2 separate regions of the Homo sapiens genome follow, and region 2 is linked to region 1. The links come from fine-mapping of genetic effects on gene expression. Tissue or cell type: whole blood. Region 1 holds a variant in brackets; the other region holds the start of a gene. All regions are shown on one strand. Distances are from middle to middle.

What was found. PIP is the estimated chance that this variant, and not a neighbour inherited with it, causes the effect.
Region 2: FAM177B starts here. The variant in region 1 is fine-mapped to the expression of FAM177B in whole blood (TOPMed, PIP above 0.99).

The regions. Positions count from the first base shown.
Region 1 is chr1:222,785,957-222,788,643 of GRCh38, forward strand. No RefSeq gene overlaps it. Among named protein-coding and RNA genes, the nearest start is that of DISP1, 28 kb to the right of the region's middle. The variant T/C (reference allele first, on the strand shown) is at 1,455.
Region 2 is chr1:222,736,065-222,738,751 of GRCh38, forward strand. FAM177B (family with sequence similarity 177 member B) reads left to right here and starts at 1,138. Exons shown (of 6, transcript NM_001394345.1): 1 at 1,138-1,258; 2 at 1,840-1,957. RefSeq lists an enhancer at 380-921.

The DNA.
Region 1 (2,687 bases):
ACACATCTATAGAGGTGCCTTCTATTTCAGTTAACCAATTGTTAACATTTTGTCACATTTGCTTTCATATATATATGTATATATGTGTGCATGTATATAGATATATTAATAGATATATGTGTCTATGTGTGTATATATATGGGGGGGTATGTGTGTGTCAGTTGCAGATATCATGACAATTTTCCCCTAAATACTTCAGCAACTATCTCCTAAGAATAAAGGTAATCTTCCACATCACCATAATATTTAACATTGATTTAGTAATGTCTTCTCATGCAGAGCCTAATCTAAATTTCCCTATTGTTTCAGCACCTGGTATTCTTGGTCCTGGGCCAAGACTGCATTCCTCAGCTCTTCCAATTCCTAGACTGAACAATTCCCTTAAATCTGCAATATATCTTCCTTACCCTATGCAGGGGACTGTTTCCTAGCCAAGCCTGTACATTAATATTCTGCCCCCTAACCCCCCACAAGCACTGAGGGATGGAAGGAACATGACTGACATAACAGAGAGAGGCGATTGCCAGTCTGGAAGTCCTCCTGGGGAAAGCAATGTTCTTCCTTTAACCCTGAGCAGATGAGCCAGGAATCTTCAAGCTGTAGGACATTGGTTCCAAACTTGCTCCTACATAAAAGGTCTGCTGTGCTGGAGGGACATTTGCACTTAATGCCAAGGCCACCTCCACTCTACCTACCGTGGCATGCAAGGCCCTTCATGAGCTGGCTTCTGTTTATCTCTCCAACCTTATCCCCTCCTTAAAACCTACTCTCCAGCCTCCCTTAACAAATGAAGTTCTCTTTGACCTCTAGGCTGTCGCTCATGTTTCTTCTGCCCAGATGACGATTTCTACCCTTTCACTCCCAGGATTCCCCATGATGCATTCTCTGAGCACCTCTGGCCTCCGAAGCCTAAGCTGCTTCTCCCCTGGCTCCCATCACTCATCCCTTCTCCTTTCTACGCTGCCACAATCTATTGTAATTGCCCGTTTATTTGTCTGTAGCCCAGACGGTAGAAACCATGTGGGTAGAGCTATGTCTCCTCAGTCCCTGGCACAGCACCAGCCCATAGTAAGTGTTCAAGCAGTATTTATCAAATGGACATCTACATGTTGCATGAACTCCTGTTGTTGAGGAATTGGGCCCCTCGTAGTTTATGCATTCCTTGACACCCTGTTTCATGTGAGGTGCTCAGTGGCTATGTACTACATGGTGGAATATCCACCCTCCAGGAGTTATGCTCTCAATAGGGAGGCAAGTCTAAAATGCACAAAGGGCCAAATAGCAGTACAAAAAACTGGGTAAGAGATGGCCAACACACCTGCATCCACAGGTCTGACTATGCATTGGAATCATCCAAGGGGACTTGCTGAAAATACAAATTCCTGGTCTCCCTAAGAGGTTTTCATCAAGAAGGTCCAGGGATCTCTTGATGTAAGTGACTCAGGGAATTCCGA[T/C]GCACGTGGACCAAGGACTAAACTTTAGGAACCATTGGCAATTAGGGGAAAGCTTCATCAGATGGAGTGGTCATAGGGCCCTTCCACCAGACCCTTCAGTGCCTCTGTATGAATGAGAAAAAGGCACCCCGTTGGAAGGATACCACCCATGGGCACATGGCCTGGTGTGTGGAGGCCAGGTGTGCTCTACTTGCCGTCCTCCTCAGGACGCCCTTGTAGAGGGCATGATGCTTTGATATTAATCATGGCTTTGTCCTGGATGCCCCTGAAACAGTATCTAAGCACTTTTTTCACATCCCTTCAAAGTCCTCCGTAGCTGCACATAAGGAGATAAACAATAGTCATTATAATGTATGTTATACATATAATATTCCACATTGGCTGGTCAAGTGAATCCCAATAAACATAGAAACCACACAAAACAAATGACTTAAACACTATTATTTGCCTTACGCCTCCCACTTCAAGGCAGCCAAACCCCGGGTGTGGCCCCACAGCTGAGGGAGGTTATTTCAGATGTGAGATCCTCCAGTGAGCTTTGTGAACAGCATATGTTTGCAGCACTTGAAAAGGAATGTCTGACTGTACTGATACGGACTCCTACAAAACCCGAAGAGTCAAACACTGGGTCACAGGGTAACCAACTAGCCATTTTCCAAACAGATGAATCCTGGTGGTGCAAATCTCCCTAAGTAATCCCTAGAGGTTCAAGCTCATCAACATTTATTGGGTACTATAATATACAAGGCACTCTGCTCAGTTCCAGTGGTGGGAGTGTGAAGATGAAGAAGGCATGATGCCTGCCCTCAAGGAGACAAAAATATAGTAAACAGAAACTCCATCTAAGTAAGATGATGTTGTAACACCTCTAAAAATGGTTCAGACACAGTGCTATTGGTGAACGGAAAAATGAAGATTTTATTCCACATAGAAGGACTGGCAAAGGCTTAATGGAGCAGGTGGAATGTTCCCAGAGTGTTGAAAACTAGATAGGGTTTTGACAAATAGATAGCACTGGAAAAAGATATTAAGGCTGCTGGAATCTTGGCTGTCAAACTAATTAGCTGTGTGACTATAGGAAAGTCACTTAACCTCTCTGAGTTTTAATTCTCTTATGACTAAAATTAGGAAAATGATGACACAAGGTGCTATCGTCTGAATGTTTCTGTCCCCTGATAAATTTGTATGTTGAAATCCCAATCCCCAAGGTGATAATATTAGGAGGTGGAGCTT
Region 2 (2,687 bases), 50 kb before region 1:
ATATTTGATTGTGCATATCCAAAAAGCCAGAGCTATCACTTCAGCAATTTAATGTATCTAATGCCTGTGATTTGCTTGAGGTCGGTAGAAGCTTATATAGTCACTTTCAGAGCACTCCCCTGAGAAAATGTCAAGACTTGAATTTGCTTCTCTAATGCAGAGCTTCTCAAGTAGTTTGTCTCAAGCTATTGATCGAAGCCTTCTGGGTGTCTAGCTGGGCAGCACTTAAGGTGGCTGGAGCTCCCAGGCTGGTCGCCTCCAGAATTCCAAACAACTAATTTTCTCTATCTGCCATGATGTAAAAAATGCTGTGAAACACCACAGTGGGACAGGCATGGACAGGCATGCAGGCAGTGGGGTGCATGTATGTGGTTTAATACTGAAAATAAGGATACAAAAATCCTGCCAGGTGATGCTCCTGTAATTCTCAAGGAGCGGCAGTGATTTGTTATTTCACATTTTTCCTCACTCTATCCTTGCCCCTGACACACACACTGCAAGTCACTGATTGGAGCAGGCCAGTTCCTTCAGGTGAAGGGGCCTAGAGAAATGTCGGTGAATACCCAGTGAATACCACGCTGTGAAACTCTGCATCTGAGGCACGCAGTGGGGCTTTGGTTCTCTCCTCTCACCAGGGGTTTGACCTTTCAACCACCTCAGAAAAAAGGAAAGGTGGAAGCAGGAAGGGGGACCAGCAGCTCCAGGCAAGCAATGCTAATTAGCTCCAGCGTAATGACCCAACATCAGTTCTTAGCTGAATTTTAACAGTCCATTTGAAAACATTTTCTAGATAAATGAAAATGGAAAGAGCTCTAGAAAATGTTTAAGTGTTACATACTTAAAATAGTATATTTACTTATTGAAGTTAAATGCCAAGATGTAGAACTAGTGTGTTATTTTCTTGGTACAGATTACAATGCTGTGTTTCAGTGAAGGAGCTAATTGAAATGATTAGTAGATAGATGTAATCAGAAAAATATTAAATGAAGATAGTAATTTCTAAAGCAGGAAATAAAGACAGTTACAAGTCTGTTCTTATTTTTCCAATCTGTTATATAACTCCTCCCACCCATTAACCTTAACTAAATGTATGATTCATTTGTTAAACAAATACTGAGTTCCAGCTACGTGTAAGGCATCATAGGGGCAGAAGATACAGCAGTGAACATAACAGGTAAAACCCTCCCCCTCTGCCAAGGGGCAGGACAGGGAGGAAAGGGAAGACAGAGACAGGTGGAATATGGAGTGTTCAGTGTTGGTAAGTGCTAAGGAGAAAAAATGAAACAGGAGGTAAGATGCAGAGGGTGGTGGTGAAGGCAATGGGAGGTTGCCTTGAAAGCGGAGCTCAGTGTAGTCTCCATTTGAGTTAAAGACTGGAAATGAGCAAGGAAACAGTCTAAGGAAAGAAAGACTAATAGAGCAGCCAGCAGAGAGCTCTCTGCAGAGAGAGAGGGCGGACCTGTGTGGTCAGGGAATTGCAGGAAGAAGGCCCGTGGGGTTAGAGTGATGTCAGTGGTGGGAGAGTAGTACAAGATGGCGTCAGAAAGCTCGTAGGGGTTAGGTATACAGCCTTGTAGGCCATTATGAGGAGTTTGGCTTTTACTCTAGGTGAGACGGGAACCCACTGGAGAGTTTTAAGCAAAGACATGACATGGTCTCACTTAGGATTTAACAATTCTGGCTCCTTTTCGAGCGTAGACTGGAGGGGGCCAATTAGGAGGCTGCTGCAATAATCTAGGTGAGAGACGACGGCAAGGGTGAGAGATGATAGACCAGGGTGGTAGCAGTGGAGTAATGAAAAGTATGATTCCAGAAATATCCAAGACAATTTCCTGGCAGATTTGATGTGAGGTGTGATTAAAGAAGAACCAAGAATGACTTTAGTGTTGTTGGCCTGAGCAACTGGAAGAACAGAGTTGCCATTTATTGAGATGAGAAGGCTGCCAGAAGAGTAGAGGTAAATGTGTGAGTATGTGTGTGTTGGGGGGATGGAGGGAGAGTTGCACTGAAAGCATGAGCAAAGATTTAGACAAATTAGGATTGAGATGTCCATTAGACAACTAAGAAGAGATGTCAAGCAGGTAGTTGGATCTGTGAGACTCAGGGAAAAAGTCTGACCTGGAGAATATAAATGTTACAATCATCTGTGTGTGGATAGTATTGAAAGCCACAGGGCCAAAGGAGATCATCAAGAAAGCAGATAGGAAAGAGAAGAGGTCCAATCACTGAGCCCTGGGGTAATACAATATTTAAAAGGTCAGAGAGATTATATGGCCTGTTAATTACATTATATACTTAGGAACTATCCTTCATAGTCTGTATTTGGGGTTTTTAAGAAACAAAAGGTAGAGGTGCTCCCAAGAATTAAACTGAGCCGGGCGCAGTGGCTCATGCCTGTAATCCCAGCACTTTGGGAGGCTGAGGCAGGAGGATCGCTTGAGTCCAGAAGTTCAAGACCAGCCTGGGCAATATAGGGAGACTCCGTCTCTACAAAAACTGCAAAAAAAAAAAAAAAAAGGCTGGGCGTGTGGCACGTGCCTGTGGGAGGTCGAGGTTGCACCACTGCACCACTCCAGCCTGGGCAAAAGCAAGACCGTGTCTCAAAAAAAAGAAAAAAAAAATTAAACCAAAGCCAAAAGAAGATCACTTACAAAATACCGACATCTAGGTGTGAAGCTGGCAATGTT